Homo sapiens: one gene and its partners. The protein of the gene in region 5 purifies or fractionates together with the protein of the main gene of each other region. This does not show direct contact. Each region holds a gene or a part of one and is shown on either strand. Other genes may lie near its edges. The genes, in order: PRRC2B, UTP11, BDH2, DHRS11, CYREN and XRCC4.

Evidence for each region.
Region 1: the proteins of CYREN (region 5) and PRRC2B purify together in Homo sapiens (affinity purification with mass spectrometry; one large-scale study listed by BioGRID and IntAct). This does not show direct contact.
Region 2: the proteins of CYREN (region 5) and UTP11 purify together in Homo sapiens (affinity purification with mass spectrometry; one large-scale study listed by BioGRID and IntAct). This does not show direct contact.
Region 3: the proteins of CYREN (region 5) and BDH2 purify together in Homo sapiens (affinity purification with mass spectrometry; one large-scale study listed by BioGRID and IntAct). This does not show direct contact.
Region 4: the proteins of CYREN (region 5) and DHRS11 purify together in Homo sapiens (affinity purification with mass spectrometry; one large-scale study listed by BioGRID and IntAct). This does not show direct contact.
Region 6: the proteins of CYREN (region 5) and XRCC4 purify together in Homo sapiens (affinity purification with western blotting, with the first as the bait; one study listed by BioGRID). This does not show direct contact.

Annotation. Positions count from the first base shown.
Region 1 is NC_000009.12:131,481,086-131,484,585, reverse strand, and holds part of PRRC2B (protein PRRC2B), read right to left. Parts: intron 2,861-3,500; coding exon 2,778-2,860; intron 2,216-2,777; coding exon 2,024-2,215; intron 1,877-2,023; coding exon 1,679-1,876; intron 1,228-1,678; coding exon 1,141-1,227; intron 1-1,140.
Region 2 is NC_000001.11:38,015,734-38,019,233, reverse strand, and holds part of UTP11 (probable U3 small nucleolar RNA-associated protein 11), read right to left. Parts: intron 2,876-3,500; coding exon 2,814-2,875; intron 1,567-2,813; coding exon 1,464-1,566; intron 771-1,463; coding exon 657-770; intron 176-656; coding exon 82-175; intron 1-81. UniProt on the Homo sapiens protein: Part of the small subunit (SSU) processome, first precursor of the small eukaryotic ribosomal subunit.
Region 3 is NC_000004.12:103,082,835-103,086,334, reverse strand, and holds part of BDH2 (dehydrogenase/reductase SDR family member 6), read left to right. Parts: exon of another isoform or gene 1-594; coding exon of another isoform or gene 595-636; exon of another isoform or gene 637-872; coding exon 873-986; intron 987-3,405; coding exon 3,406-3,464; intron 3,465-3,500. UniProt on the Homo sapiens protein: NAD(H)-dependent dehydrogenase/reductase with a preference for cyclic substrates. Catalyzes stereoselective conversion of 4-oxo-L-proline to cis-4-hydroxy-L-proline, likely a detoxification mechanism for ketoprolines.
Region 4 is NC_000017.11:36,594,879-36,598,091, reverse strand, and holds part of DHRS11 (dehydrogenase/reductase SDR family member 11 precursor), read right to left. Parts: intron 3,122-3,213; coding exon 2,912-3,121; intron 2,906-2,911; exon of another isoform or gene 2,059-2,905; intron 1,262-2,058; exon of another isoform or gene 1,078-1,261; intron 1-1,077. UniProt on the Homo sapiens protein: Catalyzes the conversion of the 17-keto group of estrone, 4- and 5-androstenes and 5-alpha-androstanes into their 17-beta-hydroxyl metabolites and the conversion of the 3-keto group of 3-, 3,17- and 3,20- diketosteroids into their 3-hydroxyl metabolites.
Region 5 is NC_000007.14:135,167,908-135,172,207, reverse strand, and holds the start of CYREN (cell cycle regulator of non-homologous end joining), read left to right. Parts: upstream 1-1,500; 5' UTR 1,501-1,556; exon of another isoform or gene 1,557-1,932; intron 1,933-2,733; exon of another isoform or gene 2,734-2,786; intron 2,787-3,147; 5' UTR 3,148-3,285; coding exon 3,286-3,422; coding exon of another isoform or gene 3,423-3,459; intron 3,460-4,300. UniProt on the Homo sapiens protein: Cell-cycle-specific regulator of classical non-homologous end joining (NHEJ) of DNA double-strand break (DSB) repair, which can act both as an activator or inhibitor of NHEJ, depending on the cell cycle phase.
Region 6 is NC_000005.10:83,346,547-83,350,046, reverse strand, and holds part of XRCC4 (DNA repair protein XRCC4), read right to left. Parts: intron 1-3,500.

The DNA of each region.
Region 1 (3,500 bases), on a different chromosome or scaffold from region 5:
AAATGTATCTATGACTTGCCCAAACCCATCCATGGCTTTTCCCAAAAGCACCTACAGCTCCGTGTCTATGAATTGTCCAAATGCATCTTCAGTATTGGCCACATGTACCCAAGACCACCCAGATGAAACTGATGGCAGCCAGGACCATGACTGATCTCCTGGAGATGGCTGCCTCCATCAGTTTCCTCCACACAAGTCTGCAGAGAGCCACCCCCATATCCACACTCCATAGTGCCCTCCAGACAGGGAGAGCCATGTCCCGGCAGTATAAATATGGACTGGCAGCCCGCACACAAACATCTGGTTCAGAAGGCACCTGCCACCTGGCCTGGAGATGCCCTGGGCCAGACAGGGAAGGCTGTGCCCCTCAGCAAACTGAAAAAGAGGGCTCTGGTAACAGAGGCTGGAAATGCAACAGTGCCCCCGCTTCCTGCAGATCCCCGGTGTCCATCTGCATGTGACAGAGACCGCAGACTCTCGAGTAAAGAACCTCGTAGAGCCCAGCACTTCCAAAACATTGTTTTCATTCAACACCTATGAATATTGTACAGCACTCACATTCCTTGGAATCCTCTGGGAAACGCTGCCCAAATGATACTCGTTCATTCAGCATATGCACTAGCACCCACCCCTGCAGGTGGTGAGGACAGAGCAGTGAACCAGATGTCACTGCGACAGCCTCAGCTGCAGCCCCGAGTGGCCACAACAGATGCAACTGCCAGCTCCTGAGCCCATGGTAGAGCGCCAGCAGGTCTTCTGGATCACAACAGTTAGATTGCAGGCGGCAGGGACCCTTGGATGGTGAGATGGGGCCTCCTGAGGAGGGCTCTCCTACTCAATCTGTGCCCCTTACCCCTGGCCACAGAAAAGGCAGCCTGAGTCTGGGCTCGCACCTGGCACAGAGGAGACAATGGAACCAAAGAGAGCCAAATAAACCAGCCCTTAGGAACTGTATGATCCCCACTGGAAGGTCACAAAACCTGGGCAGGAACATTTAAGCACCTTTTAAGGACATGGAGCTGCTAGCAACTGAGTCACGTGCCAGCCCAGGTCAGCCTGAAATACATGTGCTGTCTCCTTCACCCAGGGCCTGCCAGCCCCAAGCAGTGAGTGGAGCCAAAAGTGGAAGTGTGGACTTACATTACTGGCCAAGGCATCCTGAAGTTTAACAACTGGACTCCCAGTAGGACCAGAGGCAGAACCAGGTGGCAAGCTGAAATCGGAGTCCTGAAAAAATAAAAAAGGCCACACAGCCCACTGAGATCCTCCTGGCCCTACATTCCCCAGAGGCATACATTAACGTGATGCAGTTTCCCCGACTCAAAAACTCCACTGAGCAGCATTCACTGGAGCCACATATGAGCGAGATGGCCAGATTTTCCCCACGGCACAGGAGACAGGACGCCAGCCTCACTTCTTTCTCCCTGTCCCTTGGGTGGCCTGACAGAAACAGGGAAGATCACTGGCCTGTCTGGTGTCAGTGAAGCAATCTTTAAAGCAACTCAACAGAGCACTGGCCATGTGCAGGACTCCACACCAACACTCTAGCCGCTGGAAGACTGCTTGGCTCCCATCCTTCTATTCCTTCTAGGAGACAATCCCATCTGAGCCCCCAGCCTCTCCAAGTACCAAAATAAAAAGTAAAAAAAGCAAGCAAGAAAACAAATCAAAGCCTCACTTTTGGACTGACTCCAAATTCAATGGGTGGCACAGGCAGCACGGAGTCCACGTGAATCTCCACCCCGTTAACAGGCGGGACGACAGCCCCTTGCAGCCGCTCGGCCCCCTCCGAGCCCTTTCTGTTTTTCAGAGAACGCTCGTTGCCGATGGGTCCTGGTCTGTGCTCCTTGCTCTGTCCAGAGCCTTGTTCTGAATCCTTGATAAAAAAGCAGAGAGGTGGAGACACACAGACTGGAATGACCACACTCTCTAGCTTCTACTGTCCCAGGAATTGAGGAAGATGATGAGACGATGGCCCCTTCCACCCAGGCCCTGGCCACTGTGACTGGAACGTCCAGGTTACCTTCTGCTCAGATGGCTTTGGAGCCTGCTCCTTGTGGCTGTCGGCCTTGGGTTCCGCCAGGCCGGGCCCGCTCATCTCCTCTGGCTTCAGAGTCCCATATGGGGAGCTGCGCTGCGAGGAGGTCGCAGACGACTCCCGAGACTCGGCACTCAAGTCAACGCCACTATCTCCCTGGCTGCTCTTAAAACCCTGCTGTGCAGAGCACAAAATGGGTTATAGCCTCAAACTCCCAACTCGATTATCCAGAGAGTAAAACTGCATGTGGCACAGAGACTTTTCTACCCCAGCTGCCTGTCCCTTGCCAAGTCTGGTCCTGATCTTGATCCTGCCCTGCTGAGGATGCCTGACAACTTACGTGTGGCCAAACACACCAACCCCGATAGAGCTCGTGACCACAGGATCTTCTATGGGCCCCAGACCGAGGCTGCCAAACCCATCTCACTTGTGACCCAAACCAGACTACGTGGCTGCTGACACCAGTTCAGAGGAGGCCCTGAATCCCTCTTCCCACCCAGCGTTGGGTCCTCCCTTGTTACCCCTTTTCTCTTTCTCCTGCTCATGCACGCCCCATGCACAGGCCAGAAATCAAGATGGAAAACCACTGATGAGCTTGGCCCCATGGAAACAACCTAATTCCAAGCTCAGCTGCTGTGGCAGGGGCTTGGGTGGGCCACAGCAAGCTGGCCGTGTGGATGGTGAGCACACACTCACACACTCATCCCAGGGGCAGCATGTGGGCAGCGGCCACACTCACCTCCGCAGAGCCAGTCTCGGTGCTGCTGAAGGCAGTGACAGCTTTCCTCCAGGAGTCGTTGGCTGGGGCCTGCACAGGGAGAGCTGCCAGGGGAGGAAGACAGAGTCAGGGCATCAAAGAGCAACCCGTCTAGAGAGTTTATGAGCTCTTAAAGAACAAGCACAGGCACAGCTTGCAGAAATCCAACTCCCCTGCCTCCCCTGCACCCGCCACCCCAGCCCCCTACCCGTGACACCCAGTGAACGGCTCTGACGTGGAAGAGCTGGTCTGACAGCCTTACCCAACTTTCCACATCCTCACCCAACGTGTTTCTCAACATCTCATGGATTACAGGAGAGAGTGAGCAGGGCAGAGCCCTCACTCCTGCCAATCTGGATTCTCTGTCGTTATTTCCGCTATGCTCATGCTTCTTTTCACTTATACTATTTCTAAAAGTTGGTAGCTTCTCTTTTTTTACATTAAAAAATATATCTTTCTTTTTTTTTTTTTTTTTTTTTGGAGACGGAGTCTTGCTCTGTCGCCCAGGCTGGAGTGCAGTGGCGCGATCTCCACTCACTGCCAAGCTCTGCCTCCCGGGTTCACGCCATTCTCCTGCCTCAGCCTCCCGAATAGCTGGGACTATAGGTGCCCGCCACCACGCCCGGCTAATTTTTTGTTGTTGTTGTATTTTTAGGAGCGACGGGGTTTCACCATGTTAGCCAGGATGGTCTCGATCTCCTGACC
Region 2 (3,500 bases), on a different chromosome or scaffold from region 5:
TTAAGGCACTGTCGGTTTCTAACACCAAATGACACAGACTGGCATGGTAGACTGTCCCAGAAACCTTCAAACATTTCATACCTTCCTTTTTGGTGTCAAAAAAGAACACATGCTTGTTCTGTTGCTTCCCCTGGAAATCCAGCAGATGGAGCTCTGATTTTAGTCTTTCGATTTTCTAGAACACAGAATATGGTCTCACTTTATATTAGATTCTTCTAGGGTACCAAAAAAAAAAAAAAACTGCAAAAGTTTAAACCATTTCACATCATTATTGCCAGCCAGCAAAGAACTTGCTTTATTCTTTTAAAGGAAAGGATCCCAACAAATATCAGGTATTGGGCTAGGCACTTCCCAAGACGCACTTAATCCCTGCAACAGTCGCCTGAGACAGAAATGAGGGAAGAGCCTCAGGGAGTTGAATTTGCCCATTGTCATGGGGCTAGTAATTTATGGCAGTGCCAGAACTCAAACCCTAGGTCTGTCTCATTCCCAAACCTGAACTCTTTCCACTCTACCATGCTAACTATACTTCTAAATCATTATTACAATCAAGTGAGATTGTAAATGCCAGAAGAAATTAATGAATAACTTGAGATTGATGAATTTAAGTTTCCCTTCTTAACCAATAAAACCAATCAGAACAAAGAGTGAATTACCTTAGCTTCTGCAACCCTCTTCATTTCTATATATTTGACGTCCTGAGTTCTCATCAGCTTTAGTTGTTCTGGGGTTACTTCTTCCTTAGTCTCCTTAATAATATGTACTCCATCCTAAAATCCAAATTTAAAAGATATATTCCCTATTAGATTAAAATCATTAATAAGTTGTTGGCACAGTGCACGGCTAGAACAAAGACAACCATAGGCCAAGTGCGGTCACTCACACCTGTAATCCCAGCACTTTGGGAGACCGAGATGGGCAGATCACTTGAGGTCAGGAGTTCAAGACCAGCCTGACCAACATGGTGAAACCCCGTCTCTACTAAAAATACAAAAACTTAGCCGGGCACAGTAGTGTGTGCCTGTAGTTCAGCTACTCGAGAGGCTGAGGCACGAGAATCACTTGAACCCGGGAGGCAGAGGTTGCAGGGAGCCGAGGTCGCACCACTGCACTCCAGCCTGGGCAACAGAGAGTGAGTCCATCTCAAAAAAAAAAACAAAAAGACAACCAAATGCTGTATGCTAACAGCAATCCTAGACACAGGCCCCTGAGGCGTACGTTCAATGTAGCACCTCCAGTCATCTGTCCTAGAACAGCTCCAGGTATAAGACAACCCAGATTCAAAGGTAAAAATGCACGCTCCTCTGGAAGTGGAGGGTTTGCCTTGGACACTGACCAAGAGCACCTGGAGTAACCAGAGAAGGGTTAAATTAAGGCCAACGATTCTTCCTCTCCATCTCCTCCCTGTCCTTATTTTCCAATGTGTGGAGCTCAAAACACCAACCAAGCCATTGGGCACCCACCTGGAGTTTAACCCGAGTCATTTTGTAGTAGAATTCATCTGGATTTTTTTCAAGAGCCTTCTTCCGAAGAGCTTTGAGGTATTCTTGTTTTTTACGGTAGTCACTAAAAGACAGGTTAAATGAGGTTCATAGCAAAAAAAAAAAAATAGATAATTTTAAAAAACCAAAAACCCACAATAAGCAAACTTTACAAGCATCTAAAAGGTCACACAGAGTGAAACTCAAAAAAGCCAAAAGCACTGACTGGATCTGGACACTCCACTGTCACTGAGCTGAGCTCATGTCTTCGCAGGGTCCACAGTCTAATCAACAGTTCCTATTCCAGTGGAACCTGAAATTAACTGTCCCCAGCCTATATATGTTTCAGTGCCATTTATATCATTACAGGGAGACACCAAACAAAGTACAAATTAAAACTCCTTAGGATATGGTGCAAGCTTGGGCACCAAATGACCATATGTAATTCAGAAACTACACAGTACAGTATAGCGCAATGACTAGAATCATGGACTCTGGAGCCAGACAGCATGGGTTCAAATCTGGACTTGACAACTTCTGGCTAAGTAACCTTGGATAAGTTATTTAACCATCCTGAATCCCAATTTCATTTGTAAAATGAATACGGTAATAGTAACCCATCCCAGAAGGTTGTTGGGAGGGACAAATCAGTGTAAAAACGGTAAATATCCTAGAACACTGCCTGGCCCAATAACAATACTTAATTATCATTAGCCTTAAAATCTCTGGGACCTACAGAAACCCATTTAATCCATCACCACCATCTAGACCAGGGGCATAAAAAGGACCTCAGCTGACATGTATCGCTAACAAATAATTAAGAAGTATTTTGCAAACAAAGTGCTAACAGAGAACAAGAATGGGGATAATTGTTTTATAAAATGTTTTCAGAGTTCATTATCACCCACGCTTGGTCTCATGAATCCATCTTTCACATCTCTTCATTCCACATCACACACATGGTGATGTAAGAGACTCAACAAATGGAATTTCAGATTATATCCTGCACTTCAAGAAAACAAAGAGAAAAAGATTCAACTTTGGGCTCAAACACCAAGGCAGAGCCAAATCAAAGCCACTATGAGAAAATGATCTGGAACAACATAATACAAATAATTCACAATGCAACTACAGTTAAATAAATAATGATCTGCCTAAACAAAGAGAGAAATTTAGGATCACAGAAAAAATTATCTGACAGGCTGCCAGAGCTTTGGCCATTTTATCAATGGCAGGAAATTATCCCCTGTTGGACACTCAGGCAATTCAGCTGCAGTGCAAGGAGGTTGTAAGCTTTCTTGGCAGCGCCTCTACCAGAAAGACTGAACTCACTCTGCACGAAGTTTGTAATCTTTCTTTTTCTCCAGCAGGCCCAGATGTTTTCGAAAGCCAGGCTAGAAGACAAAAGAAAGAACAACAGTGCTTAGTTTCCTCCGCAAACACATATCCAAATCAACACGACATCTAACAGGCACAGGAGTCTCTGGAGTGCTCAGTAAATCCAGTCCTTGGAGCTAACCCATGACCCTGTTCCCTCCCCTCCCCACAACTGGGCTCTGCCCAAGGATGAGAGGGACCCTGCCAGCACCAGACAGGTCACAAGCACTGCTGTAGTAGGTTTCTTGGCCTATTAAGGACAGAGAGAGGCAACAATGACTCGGCACTAAGCAAGCAGTTGCCAGTTGTACTAAAATTACTACCAACTTAATCCAAGGGTTTATAAAATACTACAAAGGGAAAACATAGTAACAGGGAGGCAACTGTGGTAAGGGAGCTAAATTTAGAGTCTGGAGATGTGGGTTCAAATCCAAGCTTTACCTCTGAACAATCTGTGACCTTGGGCATGTCACTTAACTTCTCTGAGCTGCTATTTCCTGACTGTAACATGAAAATAGTACCTGCTTCTCCGGGTTATACTGAGGATTCAAGGAGCTTCTATTAATGGTAATGCCTGCACATGGCTTGACACATAGCAGCTTTCCAGCATGAGTTTACTATTATTATTATACTTGTGGTACT
Region 3 (3,500 bases), on a different chromosome or scaffold from region 5:
CCTTAACCACAGATCTTTTGCTCTCGATGTGAGCCAGTGGTAAAATTAAATTAAAATGTGGGGTATTTTTGCCCTCCCTTTTATTCTTTCTAATGGACATGGAAATGAACATCAAACTGGGAGAAAGAACCATTTAACATTTAATTAATTTAAAATAGTGTATTGAGCACCGGTATGTGCTCTGGCCATAAAAGAATTCACAGTCCAAAACTAGGAGCAAGGCAGCAAACATCATCTTCTCCAGTGTGATGATATATAACAGAGGTTTGTACAAAGCGCTGTCAAAATACAGGGAAATAACTGCCTGTGAGTTTGTGGAATGCTTCACAAAGACAGTTGATCTGAGCCATCAGCAAGAAGTCAAGTTGAAGGACAAGGACAGCAGTACAAAATGTGGATTATGTCACAATCTGGCATAGTTGGATCTGTGAGTTTAAAATGAAATAGTTACTGCTGAGATACCATTTCTTCTCTTTGCAAGGATACACATATTCAACATACACAAGAGAGGAATGTAAAGAAGTGCCTAGGCCTCCTGTTTTATTGTTTTGTTTTGTTATTAATCTTCATTTTCTTTTGGAATCTGCCTAAGAGTTATGGCAACTGATGATGAGAAACTAAGACTACCAATGTTAAGTAAGTTCAGCATTTCAATTAAGTCTCAATTAAGTTGTGCCTATACTGATATTATTTCCCTAGATCCAGAAACTGACTCTATTGAAGGAAAAAAATCTGATATCAATCTTTTTAAAAGGGGAGGAATGTGGGAGAAAGCATGAAAATGGCTACTGGGAAAACTTATTTGTGTTACCTTTCTGAAGGAAAATACATTTTTTATTCCTTCAATTGTTGAACCTTTCCTCCACCCTCAGGAGTTGTGAACAGATGTGTGTACAGCACAACCAAGGCAGCCGTGATTGGCCTCACAAAATCTGTGGCTGCAGATTTCATCCAGCAGGGCATCAGGTGCAACTGTGTGTGCCCAGGTGAGTAAGGCACACCTGTTTTGTAAGCAAAGTTTTACTGAAACACTTCCACACCCAATTTGCTTATGTTATTGCCTATGGCTGTTTTCATGCTACAAAGGCAGAGTTTAGTATAATAGTTGCAACAGATAAAATGACTCTCAAAGCCATAAATATTTTTTGTCTGCCTCTTTACCAAGAAAGGTGTGCCGATCCCTCATACAAAGCAAAGAAGAAAAGCAGAACTTTCCTTTTCTTAATAACTATAGGGGTGTGTCTCATTTTCACAATAACCGTAGATGTGTTTATTAAATTGATATGTACTTTTACCTGGTTCTACCAATCTAAAAGGAACTTAAGGTATCTAATAAGGATTATAATATTCTTTAAAAAGAAATGATTGCATATCCAGGATCAAGGTTTCCCTTGGTAGTGCACAATTGATAATGGGGGGTGGTGTGTGAAAGGGAAACATTTCAATATGACCTGGGGACCTTTCAAACCTGAAGGGCATGCCAGAATTTAGGGAAGGAGTTCATGGAGAGAATTGTGTGGTTTAGAAAGACCCACAAGAGATTCTGATTGAATCTTCAGTTGAAACCCACTGACTTAAAGAGGGGAAACTAAACATCCCCCAAGCTACAGAATTTCAGCGATTGAGATGTTCTGTTTTATTTTTCTTGGAACAGAAATGTAAACGTAGGTAACGCTAAGAAAAAGAAGAATGCATGAGAGGTCATTTCATTGGGTTTTAATGTACATCCTGGCGATACTTGAGTCTAGCTATTCTTGGTGCCATTTACCCAGTGGAATAAGTGGTAAAATGATTTGGAAAATGTGGTTGTTTCAGCGACTGGACTTATCAGGAGATTGGAAAATATGTTATCAAACTCTTTGGAACAAGGAACTAGCTGTGACTCAGTGAACCAATCACAGAAGAAAACTTGAGGAGGACTGAGTATGTCTGAGATGCTGCTGATGGTTGTATAGTCACAAATCTCCAGCCAGACTTGTGTAGACCCTGGCATAGTATGTCTGTGCCATGGACACAGCTGAACCCAGTGACATTGGAATACTCTAAAGGCATGGGCTTGCTCTACAGTTCTTATTTAATAGCCATTAGTACCAGTCATATGTAAGATATGATGTTCATTTACCTCAGAGGGAGAAAGCTATTAAAGCTGTAAGATTCTGAAGGAGTGTTAGTGAAAGCTTGAGGTGCACACTGTTGGTAAAACTGTGGACTTTAAGGAGGCTATTGAGGAAAGTGAGGAAAATATTATTGAAAATTAGAAAAAAGAGTGTCTTTGTCATACAGTTTCAGAAAGTACATCAACACTGTTGCCTGTAGTGTGAAGGTAGAAGATGTTCCTAATGAACTGGGTGATCTAATTAAGGTGATTTCTACCCAGAGTCTTGAAAGTGCTGGCTGCTTATAGTAAAATGTGACAAGAGACAGATAACCAACCTAAAGAGGGGGTTCCAAAATGGAGTCAGGCTTTCTGATTTTGAAGATTTCCAGCTTCATCAGAAAAAAATAGCAAATGATGCTAAAATTAAGAAATGTTTTCTGAATAAAGATCAAATCTATGGCACTCTCAGGAACATGATCTAAGGGTGAAGTATGACTGTAAAACCATTTGTTACAACCTCAGAAAGATCACATTATTTGCCAGAGTACTCTTTAGTCTGAAAAAGGGCCCTCTAAAGAGAATGAACAGTTTATGTCCGTTAACAAAAAAGTCTGGGTAACGTGCTCTAGGAGACCATAAACTAAGTGGAATTTTAAAATGTTAGCGTTGTTCTTATTTTTCTTTTTTAAAGTAAAATAACTTTAAATTAGATTAAATTATATTTTTGATTAAAAACTTGAAACTGTGGTTAAAAGTAGGCATTTGAAACAATGAAAATAGGCAAGGTGATAAGAAAAATTTAGCGCCACCTGAATTACCAAGGACTATGGTAGCCATGGGATTGTCCCCAAAGATGCCACAGTGAACTTGACAGCAAAGAATGGTTTTGAGATCATTGAGGCAAACTGGCTCCTTAAGCTGGCAAAGTGCTTGTACGATTTTATCTACATCTCAGGGTTATTGTGAGGATTAGCTGAGATCATATGCATAAATGTATTTAAAATCCATAAAGCATCATATAAATGCAATGTGACTAAAATATATGTCCTTGAGAATGCTGGGTGATTCATCCAGAGTCCCTACATAGTGTCACGAAGAATCATAGTCTGTGTTTTTAAAATCATAGAAATGTTATTGAAGAAATTATAAGCCTATTAAATAAGAGGCCTCAGGCAGGCAGCTGTAAAGTTGTCATTTTAAGTCAAGGAGAAGAATCTCACTGATTGTCATATGGAAAGGAAGTTTAGTTATCGATTTCTTTTTCAGTGAAAGTGAGTAACCAAGCTGAATATCCCCCTTTGATTTAGGAACAGTTGATACGCCATCTCTACAAGAAAGAATACAAGCCAGAGGAAATCCTGAAGAGGTACATCTAGCATTTAAAATGTATTTAAACCTTTTG
Region 4 (3,213 bases), on a different chromosome or scaffold from region 5:
CTAGGGGGGAAGGGGGCAGTGTGGCATTCCAAAACAGTGTCCAGGTCCCCCCGGAGACCAGCCACAGGCACAGAGCATCTTGTCTTCTACACGAGATGCCCCTCTCCCTAAAGCCGCAACCCCCAGTTGATAACAGAGGTAGCTCCTCACCTGGCTGACCCCCCAAGTTCCTGCAAACAAGAATGGAAACCCTTCAAACCCACTCCTGACCCAGGAGACTCTGTCTTGGCCATCTCCTCTATGAACAGTAGCACAGACCCTCTAATTCCATAGGGAATCATTTCCATTTCTTCCCCCAAATACCCTACTCTTCTCTTCTCTGTGACAGTCTCTGGCCCTGCTCCCTCCTAAACTGCTCAAAATCCTTACCAAAATGGCTTACAAATCTCTCTCCTCCGGCACACAGCCTAGCCTCTCCCTACCTTCCTCAGCTACTCTCTGCTCCTTCCCCATCCCCTCCCTTGAGATGAGTGGAGAAGAGAAGGCCTGACCCTCCTTTCTATGCCTTCCTTTAACGTGGGTTCCATCTACAAGACTAGGCACGGAGACTCTAGAGGGTCAGGTAACTTGCCACTCCTACTCCCTCTGGCAGAGGTGACCCCCACATCCCCACCCTTCAGGGAACAGAGGTCTGAAGGCGTGTCTGCTGTAAAGCGCCTACACTGCCCCACCCGTTGGCCCCACTCATTAGCCTCACCCGGAGGACAAGCAGAGATAAAGCTTTCAGCAGGTCCTCAGGCCTCTCCTCTTAAGAAGAGAGGGAACCAGCAGGAGATTAGATGTTTCTCTTAATCAGGTGGCAGAGCCTGCCATGAGGAACAGAACACCTTTGGTGTGAACCTGTCTTGGTGTTCATGGCAGTAGGAAGAGATGGGTGCCAGGACAGGGAGGTTTCCAGCCGTGTTTCTCATCTTCTTGGCAATGTGGGCTTGTGAGGCAGAGAACTCAGCCCCTGGCAGGTAGAGTGGGAGAAATAGATCCCCTGGGACCAGGTGAGTAAATCTCCCAGGTCTAGGGTATCAGGGGCAGGGAAAGAGAAGATGCCTCATAGGATGATCCTAATAGACTCAGATAATGTTCAAGCTGAAAGGAGCTGTAGGAATTTAATGTAAGTCCCTCATTTTACAGATGGGCGAGTTGAGGTCCAGGTTTAGAGACCCATGTGCTGTGGGTGAGGACCATGGCTCTGATCTCCAAGAAGGCTGAGGGCTTCATTTTCATGGCTTCATTTCCAGGCCCAAGCATCTGTGAGGTGCTAAGTCTACTGTCAGCAGATGGGAAAGGATTGTGGGGAGAAAAGAACACCCCATTCACACACTGCTTTCAACTTCTCAGGATACTTTTATACCCTACTATCACCCCATCATACCATCCAGAAGTTGAAAACCCATGTCCTGAAAGTTGGGTTTGGCCTGTGCACAGTTTCAAAACATTTTAAAAACCCTTCCAACATGTACTGGAAAGTTTCATTTATTCAATAACTATCTTTTCAGTGCTTATGGGATCAAGCCATACCAGAGAATAAAACAGATAAAATACTTGCCCTCATGGAGCTGTCATTTTAGTGAATGGGAGTGGGGGGGTGTCACATAAAATCAGACTCCCCACTTCTCTCAAAGAAATCATAAGATCAGCTGGGCGTGGTGGCTCACACCTGTAATCCCAGCACTCTGGGAGACCAAGGCAGGCGGATCACGAGGTTAGGCGATACAGACCATCCTGGCCAACATGATGAAACCCCATCTCTACTAAATACAAAAAAAATTAGCTGGGCATGGTGGTGCCCGCCTGTAGTCCCAGCTACTCAGGAGGCTGAGGCAGGAGAATAGCTTGAACCCAGAAGGCGGAGGTTGCAGTGAGCCAAGATCACGCCACTGCACTCCAGCCTGGTAACTACAGAGCAAGACTTCGCCTCAAAAAAAAAAAAAATTTCATCAAATCAGGCCACACTGGGCCCACACCACCATAGAGCAACTATGCAGGATTTGAGCAGTGGCTGTGTGCTTCCTCACACACCACAGACCCCTCCTAACCTCCCTCACTCCTTTATGTACCTACCTGGCCCCAGGGGACATTGGAGCTGTGACCCCAGATATTGATGATAGAGGTGTGTTCATCCCAATTAATTGTGACAAGACTGAAGCTCAAGGAAGGTAACCAACCTGCCTAAAGTCACATAGTTACTAGTGAGGCTAGGTAAGAATATCATCACTTGTCTCTCTCTTCCTTTTCTTCCCATAACATCACGTTCCCAAGCACCCAGGCACAGGACTGACAAGTGGGAAACATTCAACAGGCAGCAGTTCTCTCCCCTAACAATCTTTCTTCTAACACAAGGAAATCACTCTAGACTTTAAGAACTACCTTCAGGTCGGGCGTGGTGGCTCATGCCTGTAATCCCAGCACGTTGGGAGGCCAACATGGGCAGATCACCTGAGATCAGGAGTTTGAGACCAGCCTGGCCAACAAGGTGAAACCCTGTCTCTACTAAAAATACAAAAAAATTAGATGGGCATTGATGATGGGTGCCTGTAATTCCAGCTACTCAGGAGGCTCAAGCAGGAGAATCGTTTGAACCTGGGAAGCGGAAGTTGCAGTGAGCAGAGATCATGCCACTGCACTCCAGCCTGGGTGACAAAGCAAGACTCTATCTCAAAAAAAAAAAAAAAAAAAAAAAAAAAGAACTACCTCCAGGGGCTCAAAGAAGAGAAGAGCTGATATGGCCATTCATCCACTCTCTATCCCTCTGGTAGGGCAAGAAGCCAAGAGAGAGTCAAGATGCCCCAGGTGGGAACCCGAAGCTCCCTCTTCCTAGATGTCCCGTCCCCAGCAGCACTCTGGTTCACAAACCCCTGGCTCCCCTCTCTCCTCCCCACCCTCCACCTGGAAGATGGAGGCTTGGAGCTCTTACATTGAACATGTCCTTCCAACCACTGGTGCTGCCTGAGAGCAGGGTGTCAGGCCGGGCCAAGCCAGCATTGTTGATGCAGATGTCTACACCGCTGTGCTGAGAACGGATAGCTGAGAACATGGAGAGGATGTCCTCTTCATTTGATAGGTCACATCTGTAGGGGATCAAAGTCCCGGGGTAGCCTGCACTCTTACATTCAGCAGCCAGCTCCTATGAAACCCAACAGGGGTCTGACTGGGGTGAGCAGCTCACTCCCACGGCTCCCTAGCCAGCCTCAGACCCCGACCCCCGTCACACTCATA
Region 5 (4,300 bases):
ACTAGTCTTACCAAGTCAAGCCAAGTCAAAACCAGAACAAAAGTGCCAATACAGGCACACCGTGGGTGATCAGGCCACGCTTCCACTCACGTGGAGTGGGGCAAGTTCCAAAGACTAGTCTTACCAAGTCAAGCCAAGTCAAAACCAGAACAAAGATGTCAATACAGGCACACCGTGGGTGATCAGGCCATGCTTCCACTCACATGGAGTGGGGCAAGTTCCAAAAACTAGTCTTGACAAGCTTCAGATGTCTGGACTTCAAGTGCCAGTTCCTTCCCGGTGTTCAGCCAGTGTTAATCCTTCTCGGGAGCCTGCTATGCGCTGCTCTGGCAAGGCATTCCACCGGGGCCATTTCCTACCCGGGAGCGCTCTTTGGATTGCGTCAGTCAGGCTGGCCGGAGTCCTCTGCAGGGACGCTCCACAGGGCTTGTCAGTCACCTCGCTTCCTGGTCAGGGAACCAAGGACTGTAGCAGGACAAGCCACAGACAAAACCTCTCAGACACGGAGCTGTAGAAGAAAGGGCTTTATTCAGCTGGGAGCATTGGCAAGCTACTGCCTTAAAATCCGAGCTCCCCGAGTGCACAATTTCTGTCGCTTTTAAGAGCTCACAACACTAAAATTTCACATGAAAGGGTCGTGATTGATTTGAGCAAGCAAGGGGTACGTGACAGGGGCTGCATGCACCGATGGTCAGGGAGAAACAGAACAGGGCAGGGAGTTTCACAATGTTCTTCTATAGAATGTCTGGAATCTATGAATAACATCGGTTTCTAAGTCATGAGTTGATTTTTAACTACTAGGTTTAGGCCAGGCAGGCCCAGGTCCAGTTTTGGGCCTGGCGCTGGGCTGCCTGTCTTTGATTTCACTTCCTTTTTTTTTTAAAAAAAAAAAAAAAAACAGGTACTGAGTATAAAACAATATGAGAGGGTCTCTCTCTTCCCTCGCTTTAACTTTCGGAGGGCTGAAATTCTTTCTAGCCTTGGTTAATACAGCAATTCATTCCATTCTAGCTATTGTTATTTCTCTTACTATAATTTTACTATTAGTACTTACGCTATTCTATTATTTTCTTAATTTTCCACTTAATTAGGATAACAAACCGAGGCCGGGCTCCCATCCTCCTCAAGCACACGAGGGGGGCCTGGCCCAGCAGGGAGCTTCGCCTGGTTTCTGAGGGAATTCCCGGCGGGCCTTTCCAAAACATGCCCGTTCCCTTCCGCTAACTTCAGGGGCCAAGAATTGAACTTTCACCCTCCTCAAGCCGGTGGCGCTGCCTCGCTGGCGTTCCCAGCGCGCAGCCAACCGGATGCCAGCCGGCGGCATTACCACTGCCAGCATGGGGCGCCCGCGGACCTCCGACTGAGGCAGCTGCCGGGAGCCGGAAGTGTCCCGGGCGCCGGGACTGCGAGGGGGCCGGGAGTTCCCCAAGACCGGAAGTGTCCCGAGGCCGGGAGCCCGCGGGACCCCGGAGCGCGCGGGGCCGGAAGAGGCGGGCGGCCAGTGGAGGTCCGCAGAGTTTGGGCGCCAGGCGAGACGGCAGGGCTTAAAGTTCCGGGTGAGGCGTGGGTCCCACAACCGCTTGGAATTTGCCTCCCGGCTCCGCTCTGGAAGCTAAGAAGGGGCACGAGAGCCGGAGACGGGAACCTGAGAGCAGGGAAGCCAGTAGCCGGCCGGAGGAGCGCGCGGCCGCTCCAGTCGGAAGGAGCCGTTGCAGCCCTGCCCGGCGTGTGGCGGGGTCAGCGAGGCCCCTGCGGTGCTTCGCCCGCGCCTTCCGCTCCGCACTCACCCGCCCTCTGGGCCTCCCACAGGTCGGCGCCGCCAGCGGCGGGTACCGGCCCGCAGAGGGAGGGCGGGCTGTGAACTGGCAGCACATCGCGTTCCCGCGGGGCCCCCATTCTGCCCAGGCAGGGAGCGGCTGGGATGGGACTGAGGTCGGTCCGCGAGCGCGGTGCCCCAGAGACCCGGCTTCTGGAAGTTGCCGCGGCCTGCTCTTGGGGCCCAGAAGTAGGGCGGGGAGGCGCGGGGTCTGGAGTCTGCAGGACCTGGCTGCGAATCCAACCAGCTGATTTCAAACTTTTCTGTGATCTTCTGCAAGTTAACTAAGTCTCAGTTCCTCGTTTGCGAAATGTACTTAATAGGCACCCCAGGGTGAACTAAATTTGTCCGCACAGACTGCAGCATTGCGCTTGGGAGGCGCCTTAGGGGGTAGGAGTCACTAATATCACTGAGTTTTGACAGAAATGAAGGTGCATTGGCAAAGGTGTGCCCCATGGCCGGGCAGGTTAGGAGGAGGGCCTGGTAATATTTTTTCTTAAATTGTAAACAGCCATCTGGATGAGCAATGCATTATCAAATTATGATTCAGAGAGGACTATCGCTGACTACTCTTTTTTTTGGGCAAACCTCCGCTTCAGGAGCTTCTGGCTTGATTCCTAAGTGGAAGGTAGAGACCTAGGCCCTCTGAGTCACAACTCCATCTCTCTGGGTGAGGACTGAGCTCCAGGACTGCTGAGTGGAGGCAGAACAATTGGGATAGGGAAAAGAGAGGCCAAACTAGATCAGAGGCTGGCGTGGGCTTCAGAATCTACAGACTGGCACAGTTAATGCCTCCGGGCCCCTATTGCTGCTTCAAGTTTGACCAATCAGAAGTATCTTTAGCTTAAGGGCGGCGTGTTGGCCAATGAGACTTTATTGTGAAATAAAATGCCCTCAGTTTCATTTAACTGAGCCACCATAGAAGAGTAGAGAAATCGAGTTGGCCAGATGAGGGAGAGGCCATTAAGAGGTATTTTAGGGATTGAATGGGCTGGGCACCCAGAGGACAGTGGCATTTGGGGTGGTAATGAGAAGGAACATTAGGGGCCTCCGCCTCCTTCCGTTCCTCCTGTGCTGAGTCAGTCAGCACAGAGGCTGCAGGAGGTATCTCTGGTTGGCTTTGGCTGCCTGTAGGGGGCACCAGCTTTGGGGAGGTCAGAGGGCTCTCTCCTGAGCTGCTGTCCTGCCCACAATCACACCTGCCTGATGCCTGTGAATGGCCGTCTGAGTCTCTTGGGCCTTGGTCACTTCTGGCCTGCCCTGCACCGACCAGTAACTGTGCCTGATGACTGGAGGTATGGGAATTCACCGGACTTTATTGTTCTTTGTAGGAATCAAAGATCAACTCCCACTGAGGACAAATGGACCTGTAATTCCGGGTGTGACGAGAGAACGAGATTTACCTTCCTGAATTAAAAAACAGGTCATTAAGCTTGGGCCCTGACTCTTCTTTGTGAGAAGGTACAGAGATGGAAACCTTACAATCCGAGACTAAAACGAGGGTCCTTCCCTCATGGCTGACAGCCCAGGTGGCTACAAAGAATGTGGCACCAATGAAGGCCCCCAAGAGGATGAGAATGGCAGCAGTGCCAGTGGCAGCAGCAAGGTGCGACAGCTCTGGTCAGAAGACTCCTGCGAATCTGGCAAGTGGAGCAGGGGCCTCCATGACCTGGGCCAGGTCTTCCAGCCTAGGCAGAACAGCAAGATGGGCGGGTGTTTCAGTCTGATCATCTCTTGAGCTTTTAGAAGGTGGAGGGGCTGTGGGCGGGAGGCAAAGCGGGTTAACCCTCGAGGACAGGCACCCACTTCTGCCTCTGCACTGGTGAGTGCCCTGCCCTCAGCACACACAGAGTGGGTTCTCCATGTCAGCCAGTCTCTGATGCCAGTTGTCCAGAATGCCAGTCTCTTCCTTTACAACAAACATGGTAACATCAGATGGGCAAGATCAGTGGAAGGGTCTGTTCTGAGTGGTGCCTGCCCCTGTGGACAGACCTTTAGGGATGGACAGATGAGCAGCAGCTGCAGGGCCAGCAAGAGCTAAGGAGCTGGGGAGTGAGTTAGTTGAATGACGGTAATTGCCGGGGGGGGGCGGGGGGGGGGTGGTGAGTCTCCAGGCTGCACTGTGAAGTGGGCGGGGCCCCAGCACTCGGTGTTTCCCTCTCTGGCTCCTCCTCCTCTAAGGTTTCCTGACTGACAGCCTTCCCTTGTGACTGCTGCCGTCTTTCCCTAAGTCTGGTCCTGCTTTCAGGTTCCTCTCAGTACAGCCTCAGCCCGAGGTTCCCTTCCTCTTGCATCCATGTGTGTGTTTCAGAGGCGGCCATCCTTCCCTACTTCCAGATCCTTGTAGGGCAGTTGGTGGAGGGTGGGAGGCACCCCGGTGTTGCCTCCATGAAGCCCTGTGCCAGTCACTGGGCTGCAAGGCTGAGGAAATTGTGTCCGTGTCAGAAAGCTCCTCAGCTCAGAGGTGCTGGTACCTCCTGCGTG
Region 6 (3,500 bases), on a different chromosome or scaffold from region 5:
CAGAGCAAATTAATGCAGGAACAGAACACCAAATACCTGTGTTCTCACTTATAAGTGAGAGCTAAACATTGGGTATACATGGACATAAAGATGGAAACAATAGACACTGGGGATTACTACATGGGGAAGGGAAGGAGGGGTCATGGGTTGAAAAACTACCTATTGGGTACTATGCTCAATACTTGGGTGATGAGATCCCTATCCTAAACCTCAGTATCATGCAATACACCCCTGTAACAAACCCGCACATGTACCCCCTGTATCTAAAATAAAAGCTGAAATCATATTTAAAAAGTCAGACATGGAAAGATCTCTGTAATTGTGTCCATTGTTTAGATACTGTGAACCAGAACACAGAGATCTATCAATTTTGTTTTAAAAAAATCAGCATATGACCAAAGGACCACTCTGAAGTGACCAGACTGAAGGATAAATAGATTCCTGGTGCTCCACTTATAATTTACATTTCCTTCTGATGTCATGAGGGGCTTAAGAAATAGATTTTGACCCCTGTTCATAGTGCCTAGTCATAACAGGTACTCAGTAAAAGTTGTCCCGAATGGAGATCATTGAGCTTTTATATCTATGGCAAGTCAATAGAGTAAATTTAGAACTCTCTCCACAACTCTTAAAAAAGTTTTATTATTTTTACAGGTAGTAAATGTTTATTGTTAGACTTTTTGTAAATTCTGAAAAGCATAAAAAAGAACACAAAAATGTTGATATGGTTTGGCTTTGTGTCCCCACCTGAATCTCTTTTTGAACTGTAATCCTCAATGTTGGAGGAGGGGCCTGTTGGGAGGTGATTGGATCACGGGGGTGGACTTCTCCCTTGCTATTCTTGTGATAGTATGTGTGTAACCAGAGAAGTGGGGCATTGCTATAAAGGTATCTGAAAATATAGAAGCAACTTTGGAACTGGGTAATAAGTAGAGGTTGGAACAGTTTGGAGGGGTTGGAAGAAGATAGGAAGATGAGGGAAAGTTTGGAACTTCCTAGAGACTTGTTAAATTGTTGTGACCAAAATGCTGATGGTGATATGGACAATAAAGTCCAGGCTGAGGTGGTCTCAGATGGAGATAAGGAAGTTATTGGGAACTGGAGTAGAGGTCACTCTTGCTATGCTTTTCTGGTGGAAGAAATTTCTAAGCAGCAAAGCATTCAAGGTGTGGCCTGCTGCTTCTAAAAGCCTACTCTCATCTGTATGAACAAAGAAATGACCTGAAATTGGAACTTATATTTAAAAGGAAAGCAGAATATTAAAGTTTGAAAATTTTGCAGCCTAGCCATATGGTAGAAAAGAAAAACCCATTTTCTGGGGAGGAATTCAAGGCTGCAGAAATTTGCGCAAGTAAACAGGAGCCAAATGTTAATAATCAAGACAGTGCCTCCAAGGCATTTCAGAGATCTTCATGGCAGCCCCTCCCATCACAGGCCAGGAGGCCTAGGAGGGCAGAATGGTTTTGTGGGCCAGCCCAAGGGCCCTGCTACACTGTGCAGTCTTGGGACATGGCACCCTGCATTGTGGCTGCTCCCGCTCCAGCTGTGGCTAAAAGGGGCCAACATGCAGCTTGGGCCATTGCTTCAGAGGGTGCAAGCCTCAAGCCTTGGTGTCTTCCATGTGGTGTTAAGCCTGCAGATGTGCAGAGTGCAAGAGCTGAGGCTTGAGAACCTCCACCTAGGTTTCAGTGGATGTATGGAAATGCATGGATGTCCAGGCAGAAGTCTGCTGCAGGGGTAGAGTCCTCTTGGAGAACCTCTACTAGGGCAGTGTGGATAGAAAGAAAATGTGTGGTTGGAGCCCTCAAAGGGACACTGCCTAATGGAACTGTGAGAAGACAGCCACCATCCTCCAGACCACAGAATGGCAGATCCATCATCAGCTTGCGCCATGCATCTGGAAAAGCTGCAGGCACTCAATACCAGCCTATGAAAGCAGCCATGGGGGCTGTACCCTGGAGAGCCACAGGGGCAGAGTTTCCCAAGGACTTAGGAGTCTACCCCTTGCATCACTGTGCCCTGGATGTGAGACATGGAGTCAAAGGAGATTATCTGGGAGCTTTTAGATTTAATGACTGCCATGCTGGTTTTCGGACTTGCATGGGGCCTGTAGCCCCTTTGTTTTAGCCAATTTCTCTCACTTAGAATAGGAGAACTTACCCAATGCTTGTAATCCCATTGTATCTTGGAAGAAACTAGCTTGGTTTTGATTTTATAGGCTCGTAGGTCGAAGAGACTTGCCTTGTCTCACATGAGACCTTGGACTTGAACTTTTGAGTTAACACTGGAATGAGTTAAGATTTTGGGGGACTCTTGGCAATGCATGATCATGTTTTGAAATGTGAGAAGGGGATGTGGGAGGGGCCAGGGATGGCATGATATGGTTTGGCTTTGTGTCTGCACCCAAATCTCATGTTGAAGTGTAATCCCCAATGTTGGAGGAGTGGCCTGGTGGGAAGTGACTGGATCATGGGGGCAGACATCCCCCTTGCTGTTCTCACGATAGTGTGTGAGTTCTCATGAGATCTCATTGTTTAAAAGTGTGTAGCACTTCCCCTTTTGCTCTCTCTCTCCTGCCAGTCATGTGAAGATGTGTCTGCTTCCCTTTTGCCTTCCACCATGATTGTAAGTTTCCTGAGGCCTCCCCAGCAGCATAAGCCTGCACACCCTACAGAACTGTGAGCCAATTAAACCTCTTTTCTTTATAAATTACCCAGTCTCAGACATGTCTTTATAGCAGTGTGAAAAAAGACGAATACAAATGTCTACTATCCTATTTTGCATTACTTGTACATTCACAGCCTTTTTTTTACAAAAATGTGATCATTCTACACATTTATAGTTTTGCAGCTTGATATTTTTACTCTATAATATATTAGAGATGTATTTTCATGTTGAAAAATTTAGATCTACATTCATCATTGATTTTAATTTTGATGTACTATTAGTTCACTGATAGAGGTTTGGGTTGGTTCAATTTTTAAATGCCCTTATAAACTAGACAATTAGTATCCTTATACATATATCTTAGCATATTTATCATATTTTTTTCATGAACATGCCTTCTCCAAGAAATCACGCTTAGAGGTATAATTTGAAGTAAACAACTCAGAGAACCTGTATCTAAAGTTTTAATGGAAAGTGAGAGAAACAAATAATTAGAAACTTGGGTGTTCTTAATGAAATTATAGCCATTAGTTACAGCTCTGTTTAAATTCTAAACCTTCCACAAGGACTTACTTTTTTTCCATGTTCCTATTTCATTTCATATTTGTAATTTTTATTTCCTCTGGTCATTTACAGTACCTAATATCTGTATCTTATACTTCAACATACAGTTTTGTTTATTTAATCAATACTGTACTTGTTGATTATACACTATGAACAGCTCACTGTGTTAGGAAAATAGAACAAATATAAGTGTTACTCCTGCTCTCAGAAAGCTTTAAGTTAAACATTTACTTTACCTAATGTTTTCAAGTGTGTCTTTTTATCTTAAA